Linked DNA regions of Homo sapiens: region 2 is linked to region 1. Evidence: fine-mapped expression QTL. Tissue or cell type: subcutaneous fat. Region 1 holds a variant in brackets; the other region holds the start of a gene. All regions are shown on one strand. Distances are from middle to middle.

The links. PIP is the estimated chance that this variant, and not a neighbour inherited with it, causes the effect.
Region 2: C8orf34-AS1 starts here. The variant in region 1 is fine-mapped to the expression of C8orf34-AS1 in subcutaneous fat (TwinsUK, PIP 0.95).

The regions. Positions count from the first base shown.
Region 1 is chr8:68,229,545-68,240,614 of GRCh38, reverse strand. It overlaps PREX2 (phosphatidylinositol-3,4,5-trisphosphate dependent Rac exchange factor 2), which reads right to left. Exons shown (of 40, transcript NM_024870.4): 40 at 3,583-9,282. The coding sequence ends at 9,237. Among named protein-coding and RNA genes, the nearest start is that of C8orf34, 96 kb to the left of the region's middle. RefSeq lists a silencer at 1,014-1,214 and an enhancer at 10,665-11,070. The variant G/A (reference allele first, on the strand shown) is at 5,571.
Region 2 is chr8:68,325,422-68,336,491 of GRCh38, reverse strand. It overlaps C8orf34-AS1 (C8orf34 antisense RNA 1), which reads left to right and starts at 5,001. Exons shown (of 3, transcript NR_038877.1): 1 at 5,001-5,185. It overlaps C8orf34 (chromosome 8 open reading frame 34), which reads right to left and starts at 5,537. Exons shown (of 14, transcript NM_052958.4): 1 at 5,153-5,537. The coding sequence starts at 5,479.

The sequences.
Region 1 (11,070 bases):
TATAAGGAGCAATCTTTAGTTTGAGTATCATTTTTATGCCTATGGTTGTCCAGTGGCATCAGCACCAGTTATTGAAATTCTATCCTTCCCCCATTGAATTATTTTTGTACCTTTGTCAAAAACGGGAATCTACAATTGTCTCAAAATGAAAGTTTCATTAAAAAAAAAACTGAGGGTGATGAAAATTTCTCAGAACTTGATAAAGATGATAGTCACACAACATTGTGATTTTATTAAATGCCACTTAATTGCATACTTTAAAATGGTTAATTTTATGTTATATGAATTTCATCTCATTAAAAGAGTGGAAAAGCTTATCCTAACTTTCCAATTGATGTTTTATATAATTCAAATAAGTTTTTCAGGAAATAATACACATTGGAGACTCAGAAAGGTGGGAGGGTGGGAGGGAAATGAGGGATGAAAAATTACTTAATGGGCACAAGGTATACTATTCAGGTGATCGTTACACTAAAAGCCCCAACTTCACCACTACTTCACTACTGCATGTAATAAAACTGCACAGTAGCCCCTAAAGCTATTTTAAAAAAAGTTTTTCAAAGATCTTGTCTAAAATCCTCTAATATACTTTGGCTGTGCTCCCATCCAAATCTCATCTTGAATTCCCACGTGTTGTGGGAGGGACCTGGTGGGAGGTAATCATGGGGGCAGGTCTTTCCTGTGCTGTTCTTGTGATAGTGAGTAAGTCTCATGAGATGTGATGGTTTTATAAGGAAGAGTTTCCCTGCACAAGCTCTCTCTTTGCCTGCCACCATCCACATAAGATGTGACTTGCTCCTCCTTGCCTTCCACCATGATTGTGAGGCCTCCCCAACCACGTGGAAGTGTAAGTCCTTTCATTAAACCTCTTTCTTTTGTAAATTGCCAAGTCTCAGATATGTCTTTATCAGCAGAGTAAAAACAAACTAATACAGCCATTTTTTATATCATCATACAGCCTATTTTTTTCCTCCGTATTCACTTACAGCTTCCAGATCCCTCATTGCTAAAGTGAGGTAACATCCTAATGTCTAATCTCTGGGGTAAACATTTTTAAGTGAATCAACATGTGGGCAGTTAAGAGCAGCAGCAGTTTTTAGCAGACCTAACATTTCCTGGCAATCAATTCCTGCATGTCCTTAGTCATCCTCTGACCATTATTTATATCCTCACTTGTCTTCATCCCTCTGAATTAAAGTGCCCTAAACAGAACACTCTCTTATATCATGTGATGATCACTGCCTTCTTTCTCGGAGCACACAGCTCTGGAATAATTTATTTTATCACTTTCTGGCAAAGAGTTCACAGGCCTCTTCTGAATGAGAGCAACATAGTGAGTCAAGGGCAGCAAGTCTAAGAAGCCTCTGACTTGATGAATATCTAGAGAGTCTTGTACTGAAACTTCCTCCCATATATTCACTTTGATTAATAGCAAATGGGTCCACATTTCGATCTGGAAATGTCCTATCTCAAGGAATCTTGAGGCTGACCCTAGGTGAGACAAATACCTTTCCAGACCTGGAGGTCCATATCATCAACTGGCTTCGAGAAATCAATGAGCTGTTTATACCACTGCATTCAGATCATCTTAAAATGCCCAACCAGTGTCAGGCTAGAAAACTCCACACTTAGCATATATCTTTTTAATACTTTTTGTGAAGAAAAATCAGTCTTTTACCTTCAAGTTGTCTAACTCATGACACCCTGGTCATGGCCATCAAGCCTTACAAATTTAGTCCAGAAATCATGGTAAATTGGAGCCAAGTTTTGACACAATAAAGTGTCTTCTAATCCAATATGTCATCATATTAGAAGGCTGAAGTGATTAAAAAGGAGAGGAAACATTTCCATTTTTCTATGGAATATGCTTTTTGTGGCCTCTAATACCCTGAACCTAGATGAATGGTGAGAGAATAAAACTTACAGTATCACAATCTGCTTTTAATTCTATTTCACTGTTACTGTTCATTTATGCAAGTATTTGTCACTTCTTCCTTTAAGCCCAAATGGCACCTCCATCAGGTAAATACCCCACCATCTGTCAATGTGCTTACCATTTTTTTCTTCATGTTATGCAGTTTCTAGCATAGTTTTCCCATATTGTGCTTTGATGAATATTTGTATACCAAGGAAATCATAACAAATCTTCCATAAAACATGTCCTATATTCTAGTGCATTTGGGAAACATTGCATACCATCATTGTCCTCCAAAGTCACCATGGTTATTAGTATATTAGCAGGTTGGAAAAGTCCTATAATAGAGAAACCTGCTTGATTCTGTGTTTCTTAAACTCATTTTCACCACAAAATACTTGTATGGGGTATGTGTGTGTGTGTGTATGTGTGTGTGTATCTCACTGAATAACAACTCTGGAACATAAATGTCTGGAATGCTGTTCTGAAATAAAGAAGCTACACCTGCTGATTCTATTTTCTCACTCATATTACTGTATTAAATCTGCAATCTCGAAGTATACCAGCAATCTCCAAAAAGTAAAACCAGTTATTGATTTTGGTTTCCTCCAATTATTATTTGATTTGACTTTTTTGAAGTAGCCTGCACAATCAACAACGTATACATTCTTCAAACTCCCCACTTGGATTTCATAATTTTTATCATTATTATCAACTATTTATCTCATTTTTTGAATGCTCATAATGTCCAGTGTCCTGACTTCTTAGCCTGGCATTCCAGATCCAGCTGTATTTTCTATCCATGTCTCTTTCTAAGCACATCCACTGATGTTTATCATCTGTCCGGACTGAGCCACTCACCATCCCACCAAAATATCTGGTGCTTTTTCATCTCAGTGCATGTATTCATCCTGTTTTTGTTAACAAGGTTGCTGTTCCCTTCTTCTGTTGCTTAATCTTACTCATCTTGAATGCTGATGACCTTTCCTGACCCAGGCTTCTCTCATCATTTTTGTAGTTTTTTTTTTTTAATCAGTTTTCCTCATTTAGACTGTAAATTTCATAAAGGTAATGACTATACATGTGTTCCTACATACTAAATATCCATCTTAGTTCAGTGCATGACAAGTAATCTGTAGATGTTCCATAAACAGATGTTGGATTCAATCTAAATTTTTTGAATTCTATAGTCCATGTTTCTCATTGCCTTCTCTCTCATTTTGCATTAGTGTCCACTGCTTTGTCTTGGTAGTTGCCATTTTGGATTGTGTACTGCATTAATCATCTTAAATATACCACCCTCTATGACCCTAGAGTTTGGGAATTATGTGCATTTTTATACCGTTAGCAACTAGGATAGTGGCTGATACATAATAAGTACTAAATAAACCTTGATAGGTTGGCTAGTTAATTCAGGGGACAGTGTAAGTCTCTTTTCTCTCGTGAAGTTTTCCTATGCTGTGGCCCATATTAAGCTTCTCTCTCATTCCTTCCTAGCAGTTACTGTCCCTCCAGCTCATATTTGTAGAATTTGTTTCATACGTGTGTCAAGTTTCTTCTATCGAGCTTGTGAATGCTTGAAGGGTGAAAATCTGTGTTTAACGGTTTTTGTCCTCCAAATAGGTAAGAACATAATAGGAATTAAGTTTAAATGGAAAGAAGCTGAATTGGTCATACTACATTTCACTTTATTATTATTAACATTTATCATACACGGTTACTATTCCAATCTTTCATGCAGACAAAAATAAACAATATAAAATACATAATGCACTTTGATAATTTTAACCATACATAAAATATGGAGTAATGGAAGCTATGTTACATGGATATTTTACAAAGGAAAAAAAGATGACTTTTATAATAACACATCCAGATGAAATTTATCATTAAATTTTGGATTTCATATGATGTTAAGTATGGATATATTCAAAACAATTACTATTTATAGAACCAATTTGATATTTTGTCATTTAAAATAATGAATACTATGTAAATGAGTACTTATAAAAATATTTTTAGGCAAAAAGCTCTGTTCTACTCATTTACTTGCCAGTTACAAAAATATATATTCATCTGAAACTCTAATAAATTTGCTTGAGGCATTAGATATTCAAATTCAAATGCATATTTTCTAAAGCGTCTTACCAATTTAGTGTTCTTGGCTACATACAGTATATTTGTATATATGATATTAGGTTTGTGTTACAAATAATGCCATTTTAAGCAAAAGACACAGATGATCAATAACACACAGAGACACCACGAAGGTTTTCAAATCAAACATGTCCACACATATACCAGCCCCAACAGCTGTGCCTTGCACAAAGTGAATTCTCAAAAACATTTTTCGGATGAATGCTTGATCAGATAGCATTTATCCTGTTATTCGCACCTAAAATTAACTCTCCAAAGCTATTTCTAGTAGAAATGCAATTTTAAAATTTAACAATTTTGTTCTAAATTAGTTATTTCTCAATGGCAGAGCCAGGTCAGTTGATTCCAGATTGAACAGCAAAGTAGTGTCAGTGATCAAAAGACCAGGTACATTTACACATGGTTGGACAGCTCTGATGCTTACAGTAAGACATTCATTCAATACATTGAACAACTCGATTTGTCGTACATTCATACAAAACAAAACAATCTTATTAATTTTTATAACATTATCACAAACACTAGTAAATATAATAATATATATAGGCATATACATACACATATATATCTCATTTAGTAGACTTAGTAGACTTCAGGTATCTCTTCTCAGCGAGAGGAGCAAGCTATCCTGAGTGAAGCAGGCCTTGTGTCTACATAACAATTGCTCAATGATGCACAGACCACACTTTAACAGTCTTCCATGTATGACCAGCAGACTGTTGGCAGTATGAATGCTGACATCACTGTTAATGCCAAGCCTTTGAAGCAGTAACATTTTTGTGAAACCAAAGACTAACTGTAATGACTAGTATGGAGTTGTAGCACCTAGGAAGATAATGGTCAATATTTGTTCAATGGAATATCCTGGGGCCATTTTTGGTACAGACCCCTCTTGTAATTTTCCCCCACCTGTTCTGCTTCATGCAGGGTGAAACTTTGCTGAGGCTCATCACTAAAAGTTCAAACATTCGATAGAAGACAGATTATTTTTCTCAATCAAAATTCAGATCACTTTAAGTCATTTCAAAGCTTGGCCCTAGTACTTAAGCAGGACAACCGACAATTCATTTAGCAAATTGGTTAGTATATATATGTGTTAATGAAATTACTGCTATGAGAGAGTTCTTAAGTGATAATTTAGTAAGATAATTCACATAACAATGTCTTTAAAAATTAAACATAGTTTCCAAAAATTCACAAGCAATTTAGTCAAATATTAAAGGTTAGTTTCAATACCACTAGTGCATAAAGTCTAAAAACGACCTTTAAAGTAAAATGTAAAGTAAAAGTGACCTTAAAGTAAGACTATTCATTTTAAATTTCAATATTATGGCTTTTCAGAAGTATAAGTGAATAACTGCTCTGCATTAAATCATGCTACACAGGAAAAGATCTACTTCAACTAACAAAATAATACTTCAGTATTTTAAATGCAAAGGTATTAGTTTCAAAACACAGAGTCATTTACTCTCAATTGAACACTTCCAAATCAATAAAT[G/A]CTAATTTTGTCTATAAAATGTACAAGCCCAAAGGACTGAAAATAGTGTGTTTTGTTAAATTAATTAACATGACCCTTAGGCTTTGTTTACCCATTCATTTTTTTGGCTCTCAAAGTTAGTATCAAGGTCAATTTCATTTCATTCTGAATGTAATGATCCCAAAATTTAAATTAATAGACTCAGAACCAATGTCATTTCAACGTCATATATATTATAGTATCATAAAAAGTTTACCTAATTTTAAATTGATTTAAAATTTGCTGCAAGAAGAGTGGCCAATGAATGCACAATGAACCCAAGCCACCAGAAGAATGTGTTTTAAAGAGACAGAAAACAGTATGAGACTTCAGATTTGCGAACTGATAAAATAAAGCTTATACTATAAATTCAATATTATATATCCAATATAAGTAAAACTAGCACAGAAATTATCTCCCCATTTTCTCTCTTTAAATAGGAATGGAAATACATGTAAAATTCTAATCTTCTCAAATTTTTCATACTTTAATATCACATTAAATTTTGTAATATTTGGAATTAATATTAGAAAAAATTATAGGAGATAATAGAATGCTTAAAAAGTATTGACTATGAATTTTTAGTTCACAATTATTTTTGAGTCAGGCTCTAAGTTAAAATCCAAACTTTCTATGCATGACCTTCCCTTTTAGGTTGGGGGGCGGTGGGAGTTGTCCATGCTCAGAACCTGGAAGAAGTTAGCAGGTTTTAGCAGTATTTGAAGGTGCACTGGTTATAGAGGAGCATGTAGCATTAAGGTAAACACATCCTAAAACCTCAAGGCCATTTAATGCCCAATGTCACATGGAGGTACATATGGCATTGAAAAAATTGTCATTATTCATTCATCCATTAGGTATGTTTTTTACTCTTACCACTGTGTTGGAATTATAATAAAGTTGTATGAGATGTACTATCTAAAACTGTTATTTTTGATGAGGAGGAACATGATACAAAATAGTTTTTCAGATTGCAACACTGTTGAGTTACCTCAAAATGTGCATCCAGAGTTGTAAAATGTCCAGGAAACACTATAATTTTCATATAATTAAAGCATTTACATATTTCCATTCACCGTTTTTTAATACAAGATGTATAATTTAATGACAACACATGCCGCATAACTCCAAATTTACTTACAAATCATCGTAATATTACAATAGTTCTTATATTGATAAGGAAAAGTAGCATAATGCATTAAGAAGGCAGACTTCCTGGGTTCAAATTTTGGTTCTACCCCTTGTCAATCATGTGACTTTGTGCAAGTCACTGGGTTATTCTTTGCTTTGGTTCCTCAACTCTAAAAATGGGCGCGATAAAAAGAGTACCATGTCACGTCATTATTATGAGGATTAAGTGAAGCAATAACAACAGAATACAGGCAAAGCATTTGGAGGTATTACTGGGCATGTAGTAATCCCTTAATAAGTGTTAGCTACAATTTTTATTACGATCAGAAGTTAGAGTGACTGATGTTAATATAAACCATTACTAATTTTTGAGCATTTAGTAAGTACCAAGCATGATAGACGACACACTTATGTTTAACCCTAAAAATAATATGAAGCACATTCTATTATGAAGAAAGTAGATCCTTAAAAATATAAAATATGTTAGCTTATAAATACCACAATATAGCTGATAATTTGCCCCATGAAATATGGCAAAGTACAACTGAAATCATTTTAATGACCCTTGCATGCCTCTAATGAGGATTACTGCTTCCAGGATGGTGATGAGAAAACAGTCATGACAATATGAAAGGACTTGCTAGCTAATCAGCTGTGTTCCTTTATTAGTCCTACAAATGTTAAATCCTTGAAGGTTATTTTTGTAAAGATATCTTTATTAAATTCAAAATGTTCAACTTTTTCTTGAAAACTCTGATGTTAGGTTCCTTGTTTTTCATTGTATATGGACTTCTCACAAAAGTCTCTAGAGCTTCTGTGCCAAATAACAATTATTATTACCTTACCTAGTAGTATACACATATTGCCTACACATGTAACATGGTATTTTTGTTATTCAATACATAATGGTTAATGATAAAGGTTTTAATAATAGTTTGAAAACCATGATCAAATTTCATAAATTAAAATTTAATAATGGGCCGGGAGCAGCGGCTCACGCCTGTAATCCTAGCACTTTGGGAGGCTGAGGTGGGTGGATCACTTGATGTCAGGAGTTCAAGACCAGCCTGGCCAACATGGTGAAAACACGTCTCTACTAAAAATACAAAAATTAGCTGAGCATGGTGGTGCACACCTGTAGTCCCAGCTCCTGGGAGGCTGAGGCAAGAGAATGGCTTGAACCCAGGAGGTGGAGGTTGCAGTGAGCCAAGATTGCACCACCGCACTCCAGTCTGGGTAACAGAGTGAGACTCAGTTTCAAAAAATAAAAAAAAAATTAATAATAGTTTGCACATAATTTAGATATGAAAAGCATTTCACATACTAAATTAGTGTAAACCCATATAATTATCACAATCATGAGTGTTTTGTTTGAAAATTATGGATTTAAAATAAATATTACTGTATTTACTATGCTAAAAACAATGTTATTGCATCAATGTAGAAATGATAAACATTACATATACTTTAGAATAAGGATAGAATACACCTTGTGCATCCATAAATTACAAGTCCCCTAATGGTCCTTTTAAAGTACAAATAAAGCCTTATTTTCATATCTTATACATATATCTTAACAGAAAAATTCTCATGATGGTGTATTCTTTGAAGAGTCTGACCTCTCATATGAGAGCCTTCATAAAATTAAGAGTTTTAGGTATCTAACTTAAAGGTTTAGTTTTAAAATAGGCTTACAGTCCCCTTCTTCATCCTGGTTCCCCTCCCTGATCCCCAGGGCACTTCCCTGATCCCCAGGGCCATTATGGCACAGCACCCAGTATTCATGGCCCAAGGAAGCCATGCCCATTGCAGACACCAAAAATAGCATTGATTTGCTAGAGCTGTCCACAAGAATAAAGGATGCCCAAAGGCAGCTAGAAGAAAGTGAGTCCTGCTGGAGGCCTTAGTCAGCTTTCTTCTCCTCTAATAAGAAATAAGCCCTTAGGAGAAAGAGTAAAGCATGCTTTTCCACCTTTTACACATTAATGACTTTCTCTCTTGCAAATGGGGGACTGAAAATGTATAGCACACAGTCTATATTGTCCTTAACATTTCTCATGATGATTTGCAAGATGTCGCCAGGTTTCTTCAATAATGGCCTTCTTCAAGAGGAACTCTCCATTATTACATGTGTCCACTTGGGAAAGATGAAAACAAGCATAATAAAACCATTTTAATGAATGGGAGAGGAGGCATGGTGGTTAATTTTTAAATCTCTAATATTTTTTTCTTTATGTCCCAGGGATGGATTTTACTCTAAAAGTGAATACTTAATGTCAATACAGAGAGACATCAGTTCGTGAAGCTGAACTGTCTGATTGAACTTCTATCCATTTCCAGCATAAATATCAAAGTATAAACTGATCACTACTTGTTTGCAATGGGAAGAAAGATTTACAGAAAAAAAAAAAAAAAAAAGCATTGATGTATCTTCAGTGGAGAATGTTTAGCCAGCATGTAGTTTGTCTAGTCCAGCATTCAGGAGCTTCTGCCTGCCTGGTTTCTTGGGAGTTCTTTTCATTCTTCTCCAGCTGGGGGAGGTGGCTCGCACAGCTTGTACAGCCTAGAAAAGGCATGGTAAAGTTTGACAGTGACTTAGTGTATTACCATTACATGAGGTGTCTTTATTGGTAGAACAAATACATTGATGATAATTTCTTGTTTCGTGAGTCATGATCGGATTGTCTATTTCACTAAAAATAACATATGAATTGGCAAACTCCAAAAATTAGATTCTATGATTTAGAAAACACCAGTGCCCCTCTGCATAGCTTGATGGCTGTGGATGAAGCAATCCTGAATTTTTTAAACCTGCTGCTTTTTCTCCAGTGCCAACCGCCCAGGCTGTTCACCACACTTGTGGTAAAACCTACTCTCTGGATTCCAGGAAATGATATTATTACGATAATTACCATCATGTCTATCATGATTATTTTGTAGCAAGATGGCACCTATCTCATAGGGGTCTACTGATTTTCTGACTTGTTTTAGAAATGTGCTTCATTTTGTACTATCCCCAGAGTGCAGGCAGTTGGCTGTGGATAGGCTGACATGGCAAGATTCCTGAGACCTAAATCTCAAAGGCACAATTGGCTAGAGTTTCCTAAGGATAAATTACCCAGCTCTGCCCAGGGCCCACTCACCCGACTGTGGGCTCTCCAAGTGGGTCAAGGATCCACTTAAACCATGGAGATGCCTGGAAATGCTTCCCATTGCAGCCCAGGTCTAGTTGTTCAAGACTATACAGCATTCAAGGAAAACTCAGGGGGTTTAACTACAGTCACACAAGTTCTGGTGCTCCACATTCTCCTCAGTGGTTAAATGATAACAGCAGAACCAAAGTAAAAGGGAACATAATAGCTGCTTGATAGCCCTAGTGATCTCAAGGCCATATGCATTACTTACAGCATATCCTGAGAGATTGATTGGCTGAACTAAAATGCTGGATTGGACTATGCCTGTTCTCTAAACAGCACCCATGGCCACACTGGTCCCACTGCAGAGCTTGGACTAATGATGTCAAAATATAAGCTGCAGATTTCCACATGGCATCTTTTCATAAAAGCACTACAACCCAGGACTAGCTGTGGTGATTCAATCCCTTTTACCGACTAAATTGAAAACAGCTTCAATGTTGTTGATCAATTTAGCAAATTATAAATTTCCTCTCCCTTTGACATTTAATCCCATGCTAATTATAGATCAAAGGAGAAGAATGAGCAAGATTTAATATTGAGTTATAACTCCTGGTTAACAAAATGAGCTTTCCTAGTATGAGAACACGTAGAAGAAGCTATTGACTTTGGAGGTTTGCAAAACGTATTTCAAGTCCGGAAGGTGGTTGATGCACTACATGTTATCTCCATGCAAGAGGCGAATACTGAAATAAAGACATCTCACATCAGAAGAAGCTTATTTCATCCTTCCCAGAGAAAAGAATACATTCAATTGACCCGATGTACTTCAAAGGTTCTTTTGCAGCTGAAGAATATGGTGTTACTTCAAATTGCATTCCCAGGGCTGGGATAATGAAAGAATAAGGAGGCTCTTTTTCTTCTTAATTTCCTTCCTCTTATTTCCCTGACAGTGCTGCCTAATGATTGAAAAGGCACAATGGGCTTAGTCACGTAGGACAGGAATGGGAAGATGGGTGGCGAATGTCCTGCCCCATGAGATCTGGGCTGAGCCATCACATTCCATTACCTTGCTCAGCACGTTTCCACATAATGTAACTAATAGCACTGGGTAGACGAGTCTTTGAAATGTCTGCCTTGCAAATTGAAGAAAAGGCTACTCCCTGTGATCACCTAATGAAATAGTAGCTCTGGGTATTGTGGAACTGGGCAGATTC
Region 2 (11,070 bases), 96 kb before region 1:
CATTCTAGCTTTCCCTATACTATCTCTGTGACTCCTATGTCCATCAGTAAGAAGGCTGACTTGAATATATATTTTTTCAATATATTTAATTATTTTCTGAATACCCTGCCCCCACCTTGTACGTAACAAATCTTCTGACCCTGCCAGGCCACTGCCCACTCAGCCCCTTTCTTTAATTGTGCTCTGATACTTTCCAGGTGAACTCCCAACTTAGCTCTCCTTGTCATATGGGTCTTAGCTGTAGTCTTAGCTGTTCTCTTTGTATGGTTCATGGCTTCTTAATTGAATTATGAAAAAAAAAAGGGAGGAAAGCCTATGTTATTTTTGTAGTCTCATATTTCCATTGATCACATTCTCTTAAGAGAGACCCACAAATATTAAAATACTATTTTTTTTCTTTTTTTTGTAATGGGGTCTCCCTCTGTTGCCCAGGCTGGAGTGCAATGGCATAATCTTGGCTCACTGCAACCTCCACTTCCTGGGTTCAAGCAATTCTCCTGCCTCAGCCTCCCGAGGAGCTGGGATTACAGGTGTGCATCACCATGCCTGGTTAATTTTTGAATTTTTAGTAGAGATGTGGTTTCACTGTGTTGGCCAGGCTGGTCTTTGGTCTCAAACTCCTGACCTCAAGTGATCCAGCTGCCTCAGCCTCCCAATGTGCTGGGACTACAGGCATGAACCACCATGCCTGCCCAAAATATTATTTCTTTTTTCAAATTTATTGATGCCATATTGGTATATGTACATATTACTATTTCTAAGGTTATATAGTGATTTATTGAATTGAATTTTGGGTCACTTTATTAAGCTATTTAAAAGCTGCATGAAAATAAAATACATTAAGGCAGAAATGAAAAATAAATGGGCTGGTAATAGAAACATGTTAATTAAAGTAACATTTTAAAAAACTGTTTTGAAGTAAGTCAATGACAACACTTAACTTGGACTCTAGGCAAAATTTTATAAAATGGAACTGCTTTGTCTTCTGCCTCCTCTAAATGCTCTGAGATTATAAAGATTAATGCAAATTTTGATATAGGAAAAGTCTTCATAACTTTGAGCACTGGGGAAGATCACCTGACAATCATTACTCCAAAAAATATATTTACAATATTTAAGTTGAACATATTATAACTACCAAGCTTATATTTTATTACTTCTCTAATAAAAGCATTTTCCTAATCATTTTTATTAAAATGACACTTTTACCTTTATTAACGACAAATTATTTTTAAACATTAAAATATCTTTCTGGAGGGGTATTTTACCTCTGGCCATAAGTGAGTAACTAGTATCCTTCTTATCCCCAAACAACTGCCCTAAACAATCATAAGCCTGCCTAAATTAGACAAAAATATTTCTTTTCATGTATTAAATAACAGGTAGCCCACGGCTGTGATCCTTATGAGAGGGGGAACAACGAAAGGAGATCTCCGCAGACACTACAGCTCTCTGATAAACGCAAGGAGCATTTTTTAGATATGATCAGGGAGGTCAATAAAGTGAAATAATGGGCTTGCTGAGGGTTGGCAGCAAATTGGAGTTCAGGGTTGCATACATGGCTGGAAGAAGTGCCGTGGGGTACCAGAGAAGAGCAAGCTGGGCAACAGCAAAATATATAAGTGATGCAGGCTTTGATCATAAGTTTGATAAGTCCATTTTATAACATATATGCCAAATCAGTTAATGCAAATTTACACCATGTGAGTAGAAGCACTTTGAGTGGAACAGAGAAGGTGATAGTGATTCCATTCTATTTGGAGTGGGTCATACCATACTTAGAGAAATGTAGTGACTTTTGTTTGCCACATCTTCAGTACACAAATTTAAAAATTCCATGGTGATTTTATGAAGATCCCCACTATTTGGCTTCTTAGTAACTTAAGATTTCACACTCTTGTGAGTGTGATCAGGCCTGAACCAAGATATATAACTGCCCTGAGCACTCTTCCAATCAATAATGGGAGAAACTCAAAAGTTTCTATTTCTTTATATAAAATGTGTGTGTACACAAACATACATGGAATATATATATTCCACTATATATAATATTTATATATATTACAAATATTTATCTTGTAAGATGTAAACCATTACATCTTACAAAAATTAGAAAGTTTGTGAAATGTATTTTTCATCTTACACCTTCATATTATCTAATCAGAATATCATTGTCCAGAATTCTAATGCAATGATTTTTAGGCATAGTTTTGTAATGCTCCAAAACATCTTCAATGAAATTTAAAAGTAGTACAAATTTATTCACCTGAGTCAGCTGGAAACAAAATTAATTTCAATTTAAAATAAATTTTGAAACACCATACTGCATGTAACACTTTAATAAGCATCTCAAATCATAAAATATTAGCAATAAACTAAGTAAGAAATAAACTAAGTGAACAAACTAGGTAAATAAGCCCTACAGGTAAAAAAGAGGATCAAGTATTCTCAATATCAGTGAATAGGTTACTTTTTGCTATTGTTTTAAAAAACATTCATAGATTATCTTTAAAGTATCTCATACCAATTAAGTTTTCTTAAAACATTCCTAACTTAAACTATCCACAAGGGGGACATATTATCAGATACCGCATATTTTCCAAACTGAAAGAAGCCTGTGTCAGCTACACTGACTCAACACAACAAAGCATAGATGACAAGACATGAAGCGGCCAATTTCAATTTGTGAGTGGTAAAAGGAGATTTTAGCTCAGTTTCTCAAAATGTGGCCCAGAAATTAAAATTGTAGCAAACATTTGTGCTGCTTCTAAATATGTTCAGATTGCTGGGCACCTCCTCTGACCCAAATCAATTCCTGTGAAAACTATTGAGTAAGGTCCTAGAAGAGAATGGACGGTCTCTAGGTCAACAATGTCCATTTCACAGGTGGCACTGGTTTTCTAACATGAAACAAGTAGGCTACACGCTAGTAAAATCTTCCAATTTTGTGAAATACGTATAATTGTACTCTCAAAGTCAAGCTCTATCATGATCAAAATTGTTGCATAAGGAACTGTGTTACATCCAGCTTTTATTAAAAGAGAATTTATTATCCATTTTTCTCCCTTCAATTATTTAAAGTGGACATCAAACCTTAAAAAATGCACTACTCATCACTGCAATCTAAGCTAATGCCAGTGTATGTCATATGTATTCAATAAAATACGAAGCATGGTGGTGCTTGTTTTTTGGTGAGGGGACCTAAAGCTTTTATGAGACACGTTGCTATCACTTAAAATTCTTCAGCGCATAACTTGCTGGTGAGCATCAAAAGGTGGGGGTTAGGGGGCACTTCATAAATATCCATTTGAGTTTATTTTCTAATTCTGCAGAAAGTTTACATATATTCCTAATTTTATTATTATTAAAATCTTGGGGATTTTAAGATAACAAATTAAAACAGTATTTATTAAAAACAATTCATTTATTCTCCCAGGCTAATTGTACTTTATACTCCAGGAGAGTAGAGAGAAAACACACACTCTAAATGTATGTATTTTATGATTCTTTCGATGCAATTAATACACTGCGTTGCAGAAGGTTTTAGGCTTCTGCCTTTAAAAAAATTATATAGGATTATGTATAATCAATAATCATTAAACTAAAGGCAAAGAAAAGAAATCTGGTAGTTCCATCAATTTTATTTCGCTCTTGCATGGATTGCCTTTGTTAACATTTTTGGCAGAAAAAAGAATCAAAGCAATTGTAGGACTCTGCACCCCACAATGCGAGCTTCAATTGAAACAATGGTCTTATCGTCTAAGACAGATCAACGTTAAAGTTGGGCAAAAAAACTTAGGAGATCTTGCAAATCTTGTTATGTGAAACCCGTCCTCCCAAAAGACCTATTGGACCACACCTTTGTCCTCCGCGCCCTTTTTTTGCAGGGTCATTAACTCGCATTATTTTTTTGTTCTCCACAGTTCTCACTTGCTTCTCTTCAGTCTTTGCTAGGTTTTCCGCGATCTCCAGTGCAGCCCCTTCCACTTGCCGCGATTCTGCCTCTCTCAGACACTGACACGTAACCTCCTCCCCATACCAAGCCCTCACCCCAAACCAAGCTGTTAAGAACAGCTACAACTGCTTCTGGGAGACGTGGGGGGCGGGGGCAAGGCGGGGGCAAGGCGGGGGCAAGGCGGGAGCACCTCGACCCTCCCGCGAACTCTCGCCGCCGGTCAGTGCCCCCTGAACTGGATGGGACCAAGGGAGTCCCTCCGCAAGGGCCTCCACTTCTGACTACGGTCCGCACGCCCCACCCCTGCTCAGCACCCTGGCAACCCGCGGGACGCTTTGCTGGTGCCAGGCTTCAATCTCTTGTTCTCATTTTCTCGTGTCCTCGCGCTCTTCCTTCTACTGTATTTTTGTCTTAAATTCTTTAATGGCGAGAGAGAGAAAAAAAAACAAAACCAGCTCAGAGCTATAGTCTTCTTCCACAAATACGTGTGTGCTTTTCAGAACCTTTCTCCGTCCCTTTCTCCTGCTAACACATGTGGGGTCTGCAGTGCAAAGGACTCTCCTTTCGTCCAGTGACCAAATGGCAGTCTCTCAGTTTGCCAATTTCATTCATCACGCCCGCACCGACTGAAGCCTACTCCTCACCAGTTCAGCTGTCTTCCAGTTAATTGTATTAACTGCTAAGCACCTCCTCCACCTTTTCGGGTTCTATTACCGCCCTCATTAAAAAAAAAAAAAAAAAAAAAAAAAAAAAGAAGGAAAGAAAAGAAAAGAAAAAAGAAAATCCAACACGAACACTCAAGATAGCGTGAATTCAAAAAAGAAAGTGTGCGTGTGCAACACAGTCTGAGTGTGTGCATCCGTATGCGTCGCCTGCCTCAGCCTGCCCGGGTCCTGAACATGTAGCTGAGAGGTGCAGGACAGTCAGAGGGCCAAAACTTCCCCTGCCAGGCTGAGGCTGGGCCCTCCCGAGCTCACCTGTCCGCGTTCAGGTAACTGGCTAAGTGCCCGCCCGGCCGCGTTCCAGGACACCTGGCCGGGACAGAGCGAATGCCAGTGAATCCCAGGGCGCCCTCTCCCGCGCGTTGGTTCTCTAGCCCTCCTTCCCTGGGAGGGGTGGGATTGGGAGTGTTCTGTTTTCATTACTGCACCCCTTCCCCTAAAGACAACGGGACTGCCCTCCTCCACAGCGCCTTACCTCAAACAGGGGACCGATCTTGTTCTTCTCCAGGTAAGCCTGGATCCGGGTTTGCGGATGAGACGCCATGGGGAACAGATGGGACCGCGAAGAGAGTGCAGGGAGAACGCGCGGCTGTGCGCCTCCGCTGGGGACAACCCTCCTTTTACCCGGACTGGGGCCGGGACAGGAGCTCCGGAGCCTCGGCTGCCCTGCGTGGCTGGCTCGGCCCCGGCCGCGGGCGTGGGTGGCAGCCCGGGGAGCCACGCGCGCGTGGGGCGCTGAGAGCCGGAAGCCTGGGCGCAGCGCCGCCAACTCAGACAACTCCGAGGCGAGGGGAGAACTCATTCATCGCGTTCTCCGCCTCGCGCCCACCCTCGCCGCTCTCCGCAGCGCCCGGCGCAGTGGGGAAATTCGAGGCAGAGGTTCCTTTCTCCTCTGGGCGGCAGCAGCAGGAATCAGGGGGCGGGAGGCGAGCTGTGTCGAGGGGCGCACGCGGGCGGACAGGGGCCGCGGGGCTCGAACTCGCCACCGGTGTGTGTGCGTGCGTGCGTGTGTGTGTGTGTCCGTGCGCGCGCGACTGTGTGTACCTCCTTTCCCCGGTGACGGAACAAACAGCCCGGGCTGCTCCCCGAGGCTGCTCGCCCTACCAGCCGCTCCCTAGCGACAGCGCCGCTTAAAAAGCCAATGGTGAAGGTGCTTCTTTCAAAGTGCACATAAATCTGGTGCTTGTTGGCTACTCCTTGGCAGCTACAAATGCAGTTCGAAAGGGGATCGTCCCCACCGCCCCTTCTGAGCCTCTCCTCAGCACCTTCTGCCCTGCCTACTCTAGCGCAGGGGTTGAGAAGGGCAGAGTTTTGAGAAGGTGCGTGGGTTTAAGGGTTTGCCGCGAAAAAGAAGTTGCCTTCCTTTTCAAAATCTGGTTTGGCCTGGAGCAAGTCGACGGGTGAACGCAGCCTGAGAACCCAGCTGAAAACTCTCAAAGTGCAGGAGCTCAAAGGCTGGAACCAGCCTTTCAGCATTTGACAGGGAGAAGAGAAATGAGCGAGCCAGCCCTCCCCTCCAAAGTTGGCCTTCCTAATCCACGCCTTGAGTCATGTCTGTATACCTATAACTGCATCTCAGACACCACACTATCCCACTTCATAATGTTTCCTCTAGATACTGCGTGAGCTGCTCAAATTTAGCCAATACCTTTCTTATTATGCAGGGATTTCCGAGTCGAAGGTTTGCAGATAGCCCAGGCTTCCTCACAGAGCTCTCTTTCTTGTGAAATACAATACTAAGGTCCCAATGACAATTTCCCTGGCTCCTAACCATGATGTGCTGCCAAAATTAGATTTATTTCTAATAAATATAAATTTTCAGAATGATGGAAACAGTTTTCCTAAAAGCTGACTGCAGCAGTATATATTTTTTTCTTTCTTTCTTCACTGTGTTCTGGATTTCTGTTACTCATAGTTTCTTTATTGGTGTTCATGTTTTCCTTCTGTATTTTAAATATGTGGAAACATGTAATAGATAAGTGTGGAATATCCCAGGAACTATTATTAATTTCATGCATTAAGACATAAGAAATCTGCTAGAATAGCTAGGAGCTTAACCATCCCTGATAACCTGAAATGGACTTGATCCAGAGTGGAAAGATGTCCACATTAATACTTTTACAATCGGACTCATATGATCTGCCTAGGGAGGGTTAAGTTAAATAGCAGTGAGGTGTCCAGGGTTGCCTCGTGCTTTCCATTTTGGTTCGAAGGTATATTTACTTATGTATTTTTTAATGTGTCCAGGAGAAATTAAATACACAGAGTGAATACCAACATTTCTATTTGCTAAAAGGTATAGCGTAGAGCCATAAGGAAGGCCATCTATGACCCAGCTAAAAAGCCTACTATTTTTGATACCACATAAGGTACCAAGATGGTACGCTTCCTGAAATCAAGAGTCTTTCTCTTTTAAGAGGCATCAGGAGGATGCTTCTTTAAATGAAATAAAGACACTTATTAAGTCTTCACCATGCTCAGACTATTGCACTTAGGGCTTTGAATAGAAGAGACAAAGCTTCAGCTGGCAAAATGTGTATGTTTTAAAGAGAGAATGAAGCCAAGTACAAAGGCTCACGTCTGTAATCCCAATTATGTGGAAGGATCACTTGAGGCCAGCAGTTCAAGACTGGGCAACATAAAAAGACCCCATTTCTAAAACAAATTGTTTTTTTTAATTAGCTGGGCATAGTGGTGCACACTTATAGTTCCAGCTACTGGGAAAACTGAGACAGCAGGACCCTTGAGCTGCAGTTTGAGGCTGCAGTGAACTATGAGTGTGCCACTGCATCTAGGCTGGGCCATACAACAAGACTCAGTCAAAAGAAAGAAAGGAAGAAAGAGAGCAAGAGACAAAGAAAGAAGAGCAACATGAGGATATGCATACCCATTTATGTATGTTAAAACTCTGAGCATCCCAAAATTGCACATTTAAAATTCAGGGAGTATTTTCAAAGCTTTTCAAGGCCAACATTAAATATCACCTCCTTCATAAAGCACTTCTTGGTTCTTTCTATTTATCCCTAAACATGGCTTCATTACTACAATAAACATTTATTGCATAGCTTCTCAGTGACAGACATTATGTTAAGACTGGGAATTCAAAGGTGAAAGGCTTTGTCTTTGTCCTCAGTTGCTTCGTCTTGTTGAGGCAATCGGCATATATATAAATAATGGCATCAGATGCTGGGCTTGGTGGCTCACACCTGTAACCCCAGCACTTTGGTAGACCAAGACAGAAGGATCACTTGAGCCCAGTAATTTGAGACCAGCCCGGGCAGGATAGCGAGACTTTGTCTCTATTAACAATAAAATAGTAGTCTCAGCTACTCATGAGGCTGAGGTAGGAGGATCTGTTGAGCCCAGGAGTTTGAGGTTGCAGTAATTGCACCACTGCACTCCAGCCTAAACAAAGCAAGATTCTATTTCTTTTTTAAAAAAGATAGCATGTACAGAGGCACAGAGACACCCAACAGGCTGGTAGTTAAAGATATGTAAAGTATATGTGGAGGAGTATTATTTTCATGTGAGGTTAAAAATGTAAGCAGAGTTCAGCTCATTGAAAGTCCTAAATGCCTTGTTAAGAACAATAGACTTACATCTTGTGGATAATGAGAAGTGACTTGTTAGGCTACAGAATCTGTAACAAATCATGGGGTTATTGTTAGGACTTAAGATATAGGGTTAACGGGGATGGGATGGATTCCAGACATAGTAAAGGACTAATGTTGATTAACTAAATGAAGGATGAAGTTAGAGGAGGAAATCAAAGATGACACTCTGATATCTGACATGAAGCTAAGAGATGACAAATTATTTACCCAAGTCACCCAATGTATCATTGGTAGGGCAAGGTTTTAGTTCAGGTTTTTCTAACTCTAAAGCTGAAGCTATTTCTGCTCTCTACCCTGTAACCTGGAAACTAGTCAAAAATTGAGTTTATAGATATTAGCACCCCTTTGTGGGAACAGCTATGTCTCATGACTTGGCACATAGTAGATACTCCAGAAATAGCAATTAAATGAATGAATTGAATTTTAGAATATCAATTCAGTCCAGCTATGTTCTTTCAGTCTAAACTTTGCCTCTGACTCATGGCATTTATACTCTGTTTTGTTTCCTTTAGTCAATTGCATGCATATTTTGGTCTCTCTTTTAAACTGCAAACTCTCTAAAATCATGAACTGTATCTTAATAATTTTCTTTTACTTTACAGTGTGTAACACAGTATATTTTCGCATAGTAGGTTCTTCATAAAATATCTTTAATTAAGGTACTATTACTATAAGTTTTAAGATTTGTATTAGGTAGTCCCTTTAAAATTGGCTGAAAGGTAACCATTGTCTTGGATTGAATTTATCAACTTTTTCTGCACATATGCCATGGTACCTTTAGGATCCTTTCGCCGTTTTTGGGTTGGATACAGCATGAAAAGACCATTTTCGGTGAGACTGTTTTGACCTCATTGTGTTATAGAAGTGCCTGTCAGCATAATTTACAGATGTACAGAATCCAATTTATAGAATTCACTAAAGCCATTGTCCAACTCCATTTGTAAGACACCTTGCACAGTTCCTTACACAAATAGGTTTCGGAGAGATGAGGGAACAGTGGTGAAGTCCAGTTGACCCAATTAGGAAGTATTAGCAATGTAATCCATTGAAATTAATTAAATGTTGAAGTCAGAGAGCAGAGATGTTCTATATGGATTTCTTGAATTTAGACTTCTATCCCTGAAGCATACTTATCCTCTTTCTGTTTTGGTTTCACCTTGCCACTTTGTAACAAAAAGGGAAAAATATCTTTCCAAGGAACCCAGCACATATGAATAATCTGGCCATAAAAGGGAGGTGCACATAGAGAGTTTTCTTCATTTTTGCCCGAAATGCCTCCCACAACTAATGCAAATGAGCTCACATACAGCATTTACTATGTACTAGGTATTGATAACAGCACTTTATACACTCCCTCAACTCATTTAATTCTCAAAACAACATCATGAAGTAGGTACTACTATTATTCCCATTTTTTTAGATGAGGAAACTGAGACACTTACCAGGTAAGTAACTTGCCCAAGGTCATAGCTAGTAAGTAGCAGAGTATCTTGAACCCCAGTGATGTATTAAACCCCCACTGTCAAGGTTGCAAGAGTACCAATTCAAGTACAAATCAGTCTGATTCCCTTTGCTTTGGATTAGTTCTGACCAAGCTGTGTTTTGATGACTAGTTTGACTTCCCCAGTGTGTGGGTATGGGAAGGGAAGTAGTATGGGTAGCAGATAACGGGGTAACTTTCTGGCTCCATACTAAATGAATATGTTGTCTCTTGTGAGTTTGAATAATAGCTAATCAACCACGTTGGAACTGATTTTTTTTTTCTTTTTTGAGATAGGGTCTCACTCTGTCCCCCAGGCTGGAGTGCAGTGGCACGATTATAGTTCACTGCAGCCTCGACATCCCAGGCTCTTGCAATCCTCCCACCTCAGCCTCCTGAGTAGCTGGGACTATAGGTGCATATCACCAAACCCAGCTAATTTTTGTATTTTTTGTAGATACAGGATTTCACCATATTGCCCAGGCTGGTCTCGAACCCCTGGCCTCAACTGATTGTCCTGCCTAGGCCTCCCAAAGTGCTAGGATTACAGGCATGAGGCTCTGAGCCTTGCCCTGGTTCTAACTGTGTGGAAAATATCAACTTACTGGATCTACTAAATTGACAACTCAAATGATGGTGCCAGCTTGTGAAATCCTGCCATTCAGCCTTCTGAAATTACATTTCTATCTCTTTAATTTCTGCCTTTACTCATTAGGTTTTAATATTTATTTTTTAATTTTTTAATATGTGGACTGTATATAAGCAATCTCCATCTAAAAGACTTTATGTAAATGCATTTTATAACATGTTAATTTTTGTTGTTATGAATCATTTAAAGGAAATCTATAGATATCAGACTATGTAGATACCCTTGATGTTAATTGCCCATAGTCTGTTAAACCTGATATGCTTTTTGCTTATAATTTCCGAGAGCGTATTGTCTTGATTTTTCAAGAGTCTTTGTTGGAAGGAAAAAACAAAACCTTGAGCCATGAAAACTGTTATAGGATACTGTAACATGATACTGAATTTATTGGAAAGGAGGAGGAAATAAGAGCAACTAAGCAAACAAAAGACGATGTCATAAGGCAAAACAATTCTACTCGGTGTGCACCCTGGGGAGCCCGACACTCTGCCTAGGACAGGATATACTATTGCTCTAGTCTCACTATCAAGGAATAAGCAACATGGGACCTATTTCTCAAACTCGGATATCTGTAAATGTCAGCTAATGCTTGTTCATAAGGAAGCACATTACAACAACCTCTGCACTAAGGGTTAAAGGTACTTTTAGCAGAA